Linked DNA regions of Homo sapiens: region 2 is linked to region 1. The links come from fine-mapping of genetic effects on gene expression. A gene starts in region 1. The other region holds a variant in brackets. All regions are shown on one strand. Distances are from middle to middle.

The links. PIP is the estimated chance that this variant, and not a neighbour inherited with it, causes the effect.
Region 2: its variant is the best candidate, but not a certain one, in a credible set for the expression of BTG1 in whole blood (INTERVAL, PIP 0.67).

Annotation. Positions count from the first base shown.
Region 1 is chr12:92,142,778-92,148,269 of GRCh38, forward strand. It overlaps BTG1 (BTG anti-proliferation factor 1), which reads right to left and starts at 3,069. Exons shown (of 2, transcript NM_001731.3): 1 at 2,611-3,069; 2 at 1-1,670. The coding sequence starts at 2,758. The coding sequence ends at 1,303. BTG1-DT (BTG1 divergent transcript) reads left to right here and starts at 3,308. Exons shown (of 3, transcript NR_135036.1): 1 at 3,308-3,466; 2 at 3,885-3,985. LINC01619 (long intergenic non-protein coding RNA 1619) reads right to left here and starts at 54. Exons shown (of 5, transcript NR_132341.1): 1 at 1-54. RefSeq lists enhancers at 1,471-1,710, 1,731-1,780, 2,041-2,090, 2,050-2,586, 3,421-3,720 and a silencer at 2,511-2,830.
Region 2 is chr12:92,433,028-92,438,291 of GRCh38, forward strand. No RefSeq gene overlaps it. Among named protein-coding and RNA genes, the nearest start is that of CLLU1-AS1, 2.7 kb to the left of the region's middle. RefSeq lists enhancers at 1-163, 1,627-1,686, 1,707-1,766. The variant TCTCCTCCTC/T (reference allele first, on the strand shown) is at 1,883.

The sequences.
Region 1 (5,492 bases):
TCAAAGGTGGGTCAGAATGGAACATTTATATCTTCACTTCAACAGGGAAGCAATGAAATGTAATCCTTTGAGTATCACATTTTTGGTAGATGCTACCGTGGTCTCTTATCCTTATTTCATGAGATCATTAGCCTGTGAATGTGTCCATGTTTTGACTTTAGAAATTTTTAAAACATGCTACTCCTGTGTTTCCTGTAAAACCTAAACATGTATATACAGAGCATCTTCATTCCTCATCAAATGTTTTTCCAGCATGACCAGTGTGCAACAGAGATTCAGTTTATAGAACCTGTCTTCTAAGAAAAAATACTTTTAGCTAAACCTCTATAATCATGACAAGAGATTGATTAAAATGCCAAGATAAGAAACGATTTATTATAGAGAGAAGAAAAATTTCTCATCCAAAATATAGAAATCTGTACAACTTTGCCACAATCAATATACATGAACTGTACAAATTTACACCAGTTCATAATTTACCAAATAAAAGATGACTAACAAAGTTCACAAAATAGATGGTGGTTTGTGGAAAAGACTTTTACCCAATTAAGTACAAGGAAAGTTACAAACCAGACCTCCACTTTCTAAAAATAAGAAGTTTACTCAGTCTTAGAAAACTACAAGCTAGCAAATGTACAGAGAGCTGGCTGGTGCTAACACCACAGTTGAGACAGTGTCTTTTTAAGGGTCTTTTTTAAAGCCTGTTGCCATGGCAGATTCTGGTCACTTGCTACTTTCAAGGCCAAAAACACAATACAAGGTCTGACCATTTCCCCAGGTCATGCTTACTAGTTTGTCTTTATGTACATTTATACATATTTAAGTGCTAGGTAAAAGTCTTGTAAAATTTCCAGTACTACCATGTTTAAAACGTTTAACTTTCCTATTAAAAGCTGCCGAAAAGGTTAACAATAACAACTTTCAAGTGTAATAGTGCAAATTCCCCTGCGAGATTTACTGCAGAGAAAGATTCTTTGAAATACAGATTTTCTTTAAAAGGATTGATGTAAAAATTTAGGTATGTCTGGGAGAAACTGAAACCACCCTAGGACTTCCCTCCCTAGCAAATAAAGTGATCATTTACTTGGACTCACAGGCTATTAAAATTAATCATTGAAAGGTACTGTCCAAACTATGGCACTGTCACTTAAAATTTTTTTTTTTTTTACCATTCTATCTTGTGCCAGATCTTCACAGCTGTGACATGGTTTAAATTCCATAATCCATCCCCAAGAGGAGCCCACCCAAAGCAAAAATCAAATTTATCCATCATCATCAGATGATCCATCCACAGACTATATCTTAACCTGATACAGTCATCATATTGTAGTTTTTGGAAGGGCTCGTTCTGCCCAAGAGAAGTTCCTCCTTACAGCTGATTCGGCTGTCTACCATTTGCACGTTGGTGCTGTTTTGAGTGCTACCTCCTGCTGGTGAGGCTTCATACAGCACACAGATGGAGCCATCCTCTCCAATTCTGTAGGACACTTCATAGGGGTCAACCCAGAGTGTGAGTTCACTTGGGAGAAGCCTGAACAGCTCCTGACTGCTCAGTCCAATCCGCTGTGCTGCCTGTCCAATCAGAGGATCCATTTTATGGTTGATGCGAATACAACGGTAACCCGATCCCTTGCATGGCTTTTCTGGGAACCAGTGATGTTTATAATGTTCTATAGAAGAAAAGAAGAACAGAGAAACAACGCTTAGGATCGTTAGCTCCCACTGCGGATTCCTCCTACCCCAGGCTCCTTTGAGGAGCGAAAATGAAAACTATCAACTTTTTAAAATGTCCAGGATTGCATCCGTTGTTGTGCATGTGCGGGGATGGAAAAAGCGGGCAGGGTTTTAGAAATAACACAGTAGTACCGGACAAAACAATCTCCAGGAACCAACCGGTTGAGCCGCCAAAACAGGAATCAGGCGCGCAGCCTCGGCCAGTCGGGAAGCCACTGGCACCTATGGCCAGGCGAGAAACTGTTTACTTTCTCCACCCCACCCCAGATGCACACAATGGAGTTGATGGCTTTGGAGATGAGAAGCGCCACCGGACTGTTAACCCCGAAGGGAAGAAAAACAAGCAACCCTAAACCACGCTCTGGGCAGGGCTGTTAATTGTGCCGGTGACAAATCCGATGATTAATGGGCAGGGGCAGGAGGCGCGGGGAGACGGCACGTCCGTTCTGAGCTGGCTCCGGGGCAGCGGCGCAGCTTCCCACCCCGGGGCTGGGCCGCCGACCACGCAACGGTTGGAGGGGGCTGAGGAAAGGGGACGTCGAACCCACCCCAGCCCCACGGCTCCTTTGTCCCCAAATCCGCCGACGGTCCTCGGACCGCAGCTCCCGCCTCGGTGGGCTTAAGTTTCTTTGTTGTGCGTGTTGTCTTCTCCTCTCCGTTTTGCCAGCTGGGGGGAAGGGGGCGCCCTCCGTCCAGCCCCTAAAGCCTCGCGGGGAACCGCTGTTAGCGGCCACCCAGCGCAACCACACCGGTCCCGCGGCGGGGCCCAAGCGCGACCGGCCCCGGGGCGCTGCCGAGGTTCCCGCAGCCCCGACGGCCGGACTCTGACCCAGGGATGTGGGGCCCGCGTCCCTCCGACGCCCTCGCCCTGCTCACCTGCCAGCAGCTCCTGCAGGCTCTGGCTGAAGGTCTGCAGCTGTCGCTCGCTCGTGAGCCCCTTGGTGCGGAGAAACTTGGAGATGAAGGACACGGCGGCGGCGATCTCGCCTATCATGGTGGCGGCCCGGGTGTAGAAGGGATGCATGGGGGCGGCGTGCGGGGGCGGCCCGGGGCGGCTGGGGCTCGGCGGCGCGGCCCCGACGGCGGAGCAGCCACCCCGGGCTTCCTCACCGGGCGGAAGGCTGAGAGGAAGAGAGGGCGTGAGGGGCGGACGACTACTTTTGTCTTTCTTTCTTTAGACTAAAAAAGTTATTTTCGAGACAGGAGGCGGCAGGAGAGAGGAAGAGACGAGCGATGGCGGCCTGGTCACATCGCTCGGACCTCCCCAGCTGCCTCCGCCTCCAGCTCCGCAGCATTCGAAGATCTCAATAGCTGCATTTCCAGCTCCGAGAGGCGAAGAGATGCAAGCGCCGTGCAGCACCCTTTATAGTGCCACGAAAAGGAAGTGGCGTAGCTGGAGCGTGATGGCCGACTCCAGCCAATCCGAATATCGCACCATTGTGACGCAAGCCGGTTCGGAGCCGAAAGGGGCGGGAAAAGAGTTCAGGAGGCGGGTCCAGAGATAGGGAAGAGAGGGAGGAGCTGACGTAATCCGCTTGTAAACAAATAAACCCGGAGTGGCGGCTGGAGACCCAGTTGCTTGTGTCGAGGGAGGGAGGGAGGGAACAGAGGGTGCGCGTGTGAAAGCTCCGCCCCCAGCCCTAGCTCCTCCTTCCCGCTTCAGCAGGTCCAGGCTCTGCGCCAGTGCATCCTTCTCCAAGAGTGCGCTGCCTGGGCCCGCTTGCCCTGGAGTGTAAGTGCTGGGTAAATAAGAACCGCCTGGCGCAGGCTGTGTCTACTCTTCACGCCGCCTTCTCAGATCGGGCTGCATGTCCCCACTCCGTGTTTACATCTCGTTCCCGCTCCGGGTCTCGGTGACTGGCTCCTCAAGCCGGAGACGCGTGTGGTGCGGCGCGATGCGGGCGCCAGCGCTGTGTGTGCTGGCGGTGCGCTGCCTTAGTGCGGGGGAAAGTGGAGGGAACGGTCCTGCGGGGCGTTCTGTCCAAGAAAAAGGACTGCAGCCTCGGGGAGCCAGGGTCCCCTCGCAGACGAGCTGCCAACGCCGCGGAGCCATTTCTGTTCCACCCTAGGGGAGGAGTAGGGGGATATCTTTTAAAAGTTTAATTGCAAAATAAGTAGGTTAGTAAGGCCATTTGTGGTTGCTGTTTCAGTAACTTCAGCAGTCAACGGAGAGAAGAGTGGAAACCTTACTGGATGCGGACAGGAGAGCCAGTTACTGAAAGCAGATATAACGCGGATCCTGTAAAGAGTGGTGTGTATCCAAAAAAAAAAAATCTGTACAATGTATTTTAAAACTTGTGTGCACAAAACTGAAGATTTTCTTTTTTACCTAGTCCAAATGCCGTCCTAGCCTGAGTCCTGCTCTTTATAAAAATAAAATAAAAAGAATTTGAAGCTTGTGAAAGTATTAAGTGTAGACATTCAAGTTTATTTGAAACCCTACCAAAAAAAAAAAAAAACAACCTTAAAAACCAGTGTAACAGGAAGGCGGGAGCCTGCTAAAACGATTAGGCCTAAGACAGGGTTAACCCCAACTCCATTAAGGAGAAGGGGGAAAAGAAAAAAAGAAAGATGAAGGGAGGCAGGCAGATGGAGAAAGCAAACAGGAGGCAGAAGTTGAACTCTACCAGATGGAAATAAATATCCCGACCTTAGTTGATCATCAATATTGCAAAACACACCACTTTGAGTGTTTTTTTTTTCTTTTTAATACTGAGCTAAAGGATATAGAAATGAAGCAAAAATAATGACATTATAAAACAGGAGAAAACGTTTTATTGTTTAAAAAATATGTAAAACTCGATTTGAAAAAATAACTTCTAGATTATTTTTTCATTAGTACACATAACTAAGTAGTTACATGTGAAAAAATTAAAGAGTGGTTTTTTTTTTTCTTATAGAACTTTTCAGATAGAACTCTGCTTAAAAATAGTAATTTCACTGGAGGCATGAAACCTCTTTTACTACTCAAAAAGAAGATCGAGAAGCAAAAGTAAATTCATGAAATTACCATAACACTAGAATAACAACTCCTGGTCTCCCACCTAACCTGACCCACCCTTAGTTCCCTGCTTTCACTTACATTGTCGTTAATGTGTCACTGAGTACAAATTAGGAGTCAAGTGAAAGTTTTTCTCTTCTAAACCTGGTCTCCAACTTGGCCTCTCGGTCATGTGCTTAAATTGTCTCATCTAAAAAACAGAAATATTAAATCAACAAAATGCTAGGATTGGACTCAGACTTCCCCCAAGCCCTTGTTCTCCATACTATTTTTAACTGCCTGCACTAGCAGCAGCAGGACCCCTTCTGAAAGCCTTATAAAACCAGTTGAACAGGGTTAACAGAAAGTTTAACCCATAGACTCAGGGAGAGTTACTTCCCGCACTGAGTTTTTCAAATTATATATGTGTGTTTCCCACCTTAAATCATCCCATTAGGAGACAAACTGATTTGAGAAACTACAGTAATTTTTAACTTGGGAATCTACAGAGTACTCAGAAAAAAACTGGAAATAAACATTAGTCTTAAACGTAAGCCTTAGATGGTACATAATGTTCATTGCTAATAGTTTTCAATTCCTGACATATATATGTTTAGTCACATTTTCTGGAAGTTTAGTCAGGCCCTTCCCATCTGGGAAACAAGCAGGTATTTCTGGACAGCTTTTGAATTACAAAGGTGCTTTCTGTGTTGTTGTGCTAAGTTTACCAAGGCTCTCCCAAGTACTTTATTATTATCATGCAATTTGATAGTAATTT
Region 2 (5,264 bases), 290 kb after region 1:
CCACACACTTTTTAGAAACCCAGATCTCATGAGAACTTACTCACTATCATGAGAACAGCAAAGAAGAAATCTGTCTCCATGATCCAATCACCTCCCACCAGGCCCCTCCTCCCACACTGGGGATTACAATTCGACATGAGATTTGGGCAGGGACACAAATCCAAACCATAACAGTTGGCAACCCTTTTTTAAAGAAAGTAATGACATCAACTCCTTGGGGATGTGGATTGGGGGAGAATATTGGAGAGGATCCAGGGGAAGTGAAGATATCAAGTTCTTTATACATAAATAGATCTATCTTTTTAGGGAAGTAGAATATGTCATTTAGGATAGGGAAAGTTGAAGATGTTACTCTATTCAGCTTTAGGGAAACTCCAAGATGTAACACTATGTCCTGTGAATATTAGTCTTGTGGAAAGTGCTCCATTGGAAGAAGACAGAAAATGTCCTGCTGCACAGAGATCCATATCTTCATGCCACGTCTTGCAAATGCAGTCAGGGAGCTTGCTCTAAATTCGTGTTGCCTTTTAGGAAGTTACAGAGCATATTTCTTTATATCTTCTTTATTTTTGCCCTTGATAGGAGACTGCCAGGGATTCAGTTATTATAATTTTACATTTATTTATCCTTTTCTGGGAGCATCTCATACCTTTTTTACTAGAGAGGCCAAGGTCACAATTAAGATTAGGGAGACAATACAGAGTCAAGACACCTGAATTTTGCCACACTACTCTTGGGCCACTTTAATTGGTGTTTCTGGGCCTCATTTTTATTACTATTATTATTAATTATTTTATGGTGTGTATAGGAGCTGGAAGATAGTGACTTCTATTAGAATTTATTCTTATAAACAATGCTGTATGGCTCTTGGATTAAGAAGTAAATAGAAAACAAAAAGGGTCTTTGAACTGCTGTCTCTTCTAGGTCTTCTCAGAGTGCTACTGGGAATTAGATGGGATTAGATGGGTGAATTTCCTTTTTCTTTTGTTTGAGAGGTCTAGATTTTTGAAGTATCTAAACCATCTTTAGATCTAAGTTAATCTCCAAAAAGCTTTATTGCCTGAAACATTCCAGTTCTAGGAAGTTTGCATTTCTCTGAGTGTAAGGGTCTGGTCTGTAACTCCTTGAGATCAGGAATGTGTCTTTTTATCCCCATAGTTCAGCGCCTACCCTAGTGTCTTCCCTACAAGTGATCATTGAATGAAGAAAGGAATAAATTCCTTCTTCTCTAACATACATCAGAGACCTCTGACCCTTATTGGGTCCCCCTTCCCTATTGATATACCTCTCCATCTCCAGACATCCACATGGCCTCCTAGGGGTATGGGATTCTTCACTCTTCTCCTGGTACAAGCTCCTTGCCTGAAATTTTTCTGACCCACCCCCATTTCTAACCGTCACAGGTTTAGATTTTCTGAAGCAAACATACAGACAGAGTTCGAGTTACAAGACATTTAATAGGAATCGACTCTTGTGAAAGGAAGAGGGGAAGATGTGGGACTGGGCTCAGTGAGAAGCCAAGCTGTGACACAATGAAAACCTCAGCCCACCCTGCACAGAGCTCAGGAATGAGTGTCACGTGTTAGAGCTGACCTGGGTCAGGTCAACATTGCTGGGTGTTTCTGCTTCTGCCTCGTTCAGTTGTCAGATGCAAGCTGACCTGGGAAGGGTTTGACTGGGCAAGATGGCTGTCTGCAGATGAGGTCAATCAGAAGGGGCTGACAGCCAAAAGTGGTTTGCTCATCTCACTACCCACAGCTGGGTGGCAAGTCCTTCAAGAGGGAGCTGGATGATGCTTCTCCACCTCTACCACACCAAACAAAGCATTTCTTTCTTATTCTTTTTCTTCCTGTCTCCCTTCCCCCTCCCCCCTCTCCCCTTT[TCTCCTCCTC/T]CTCCTCCTCCTCCTTCTTCTTCTTCTTCCTCTTTTTTCTCCTTCCTCTTTCTTTAGAGACAGGGTCTTGCTTGGTTGCCCAGGCTGGAGTGCAGTGGCAAGGTCATAGCTCACTGCAGCCTCAACCTCCTGTGTTTAAGCAATCCTCTCACCTTGGCCTCCCAAGTAGCTGGGACTACAGGCATGTGCTATCATGCCCGACTAATTTTTTAATTTTTACTAGAGACAGTCTCACTATGTTGCCTGGGCTGGAGCATTTCTATTCATGGGTTTTGTTCCTCTGGAGCTGTGCTGTTCTCTTTGATAACATGAATATGGATTTGTATTTACCCCCTTCTGGCCATCTTAACTAATGGCCCAAAGGAAGGCCAGTGGTGAAGATGTTTCTCTACAGGGAAGTTTCTAAGTGTTTCTCAGCCTACATGTGTGAGTGTATTAATGGGAATACTGGGGATAATTGGATAGAATGTATGAAATTAGGATTGGCCTAAACTATCTGGTCCAAAGTTTATCCTAGTGGCCCTAATAACATCTCCAGTGATGGTCTTTCCTGAGGTTATAGAATGAGCTATAGGAAAGAGTGATAGTACAGGAATGAGAGGATTGGATCGTCTTTTCTCTTTGTTCTATTCCTCTATGATTATTTGATTTCTTTTTTTTGTGATGGAGTCTCACTCTGTCGATTATTTGATTTTTGTTTCAGATTAAGGCCAGCTTTCTTTGACTGAGCAGACCCACGTATATGGGAAACGGCCACACACCAAATTAAACCATTCACTGACACCCGGGCACACCCATTTTCACCACTCTGCTCTTGCCCGTGCCATTGCCTTTGCATCCAAGGGATTCTTCCTTCTGTGGCAATCTGTATGACATCCTTACTAAGAAGGCCTCCCTCAGTGCCCTTGGCCCTCTCACAGCCCTTTCCATGGCCTTCTCCACTAGACTGTGAGGAACCCAGTGTCTGGAACAGTTCATGGCATTGTTGTTAGTGTTGTCATTTTGTTGTTAAGCCTTCTGCTGTCAGTGGTCATTTCATATGTTTGCATATTTACGCCCTGCCTCTTTTTGGTATGCAGTGTGGACCCTATTGCACGGCTACTTGTGTTTCAGTGGCTTTGTCCTATTCCACCTTCTATGCCACTTACTCTGAATGCCTGGCACATTGGTAGGTGCCCAATACCAACTTGGAAAGTGAATGAATTTGTTTTCTCATTACCTTTTGAAATGCCTATACAGATGTTCCTCCACTTATGATGGAGTTCATTCTGAAAAGCTCATGATAAGTAGAAGATATTATGTCAGAAATGTATTTTATTGTATTTTTTATTTTTTAATCTTTCTTTCTCTTTCTTTCTTTCTTTCATTCATTCATTCTTTCTTTCTTTCTTTTTCTTTCTTTCCTTTCATCTTTCTTTTAGTAGAGACAATGTCTCACTATATTGCCTAGGCTGGTCTTGAACTCTTGGGCTAAAAGCAATTCTCCTGCCTTGCTCTGCCAAAGGGCTGAGATTACAGGCATCAACTACTGCACCTAGTTGAAAAATGCATTTAATGCTCCAATAAACCCATCATAAAGTCAAACCATCAGCAGTCAGTGACTATCTGTATACCTTAGGACTAAGTTAGAAGTTGGAGATGGTAAAGTTTCTAAATTAGTACAAGCACAGGAGCTCTTATTCCTGCCATTTTATGAAAGTCATGTGAGTATTGGTGACCATCACTAATGGGGCTGGTAGAAACTTTAGGACCAGTCTGTCTTAGTCAGCTGGGCTGCTACAATAAAAAACCATGGACTGAGTGGGTTAAACAATGGACATTTACTTCTCACAGTTCTGGAAGATGGGAAGTCCAAGATCAAGAAGCCAACATGGCTGGATTCTGATGAGGGCTTTTTCTGGAATGCAGATGATCACCTTCTTGCCTTGTCCTCATGTGGAAGAGAGAGCAAACTCTCTAGTCTCTCTTTCTTTTCTTAAAGGACAATAATCCCATTATGGAGGCCTCATGCTCATGACCTCATCTAAACCTAGTTACTTCTTAAAGGCTCCAACTCCAAATACCATCACACTGAAGGTTAGGGTTTCCACATATAAACTTCGGAGGGACACAAACATTCGGTTCATAACAAGTGCATTCTACAGGACTCCAGGGAGTGTGTTGGCTACCCTTCATCCCACACAGCTGCAACAATCCTAATCCACTGATATCAAGTCACCATATATTTGAAATTCACTCAGTTCCCAAGAAAATATCTGCTTTCATAATCATTTCTCAGCTAAGGAATGAAAGCTATGATAAGAAAGTCTAGCACTTAGTGGGAAACAAACTTGAATTAGGCCAGGACCCCTTAAATATTGTCACTATGAAATCCAAGGGCAGTATTTACATGCTTTTCCTTCATGATGACCTTAGATTTCGCTTCTTTATGCTGCAATCAACTGAAAACATTCCACTGTTGGTAATCCTTTATCTTCTAACAAATCTAATTTAGTAGATCTTGTTACTCCTTATTTTTGAAAATATTAAACTAAACAATAAGTGATCTTTCAGGGAAATTCTGCAAGGGAAGTGGCTTCTAGAGAATGCCTCTTCTCCAAAAGGCCTAGTTCTATTTCTGATATCTAATCAGTTCTGCTCCCTTTAAATAATTACTGAAACTAGTTTATTGTTTAAATGACCTCATTTGAAAGTGGGACTTTCCCCTTTGCCTTCTTCCCTTTTAATTTCTGTTTTTAATTAATGTAAGTGCAGTCAGAACTGACGGTGTCAACCTTTCCTGTAACTGTGATTGCCACTTGTGGACATTCTGTACTCATAAGAGTGATTCTCACAAGTTCTTTAAGTTTTTTGGAAGTGCAAACCCAACAGGAAGAAAGAATAGGACTCCCTGCATTCTATTTTGCTCTGCAGTGAAGATGCATTGTTGAGTAATTTGCTTTACATTCAGATATACCCAGATTCCCATCTTCCCAATCCATGTGACTTGGCTAAGTTACAACTCTTTATAAGCCTCAATGCCTGCAACTGAATAAGAAAGTGGTAACCATCTCATGGGGCATTGGGTAAATGAGATAATACTTATGAAGTATGCAGCACACAGCCAAGAGCGTAACGTGTTCAATCAATGATATCCATTATTATTACATGTCAAATCACATCTGACTTCTGTGATTCTACTGGGGAAAAGGATGCAAAATCCTCTTGCCGTTGGGGTGTCAAATATTTTAGTACTTATTTCCAAATTCATTGGAGGGGTCTTTCCCTGAAGTTTACAGATGTGGAATACACCATTCAGGCAGGCTTTCTTCAGTAGTGCAGGTCATTTCAGGGGTTCTCCACATTCTAGAATAATTTTTTTTTTTACCCACTA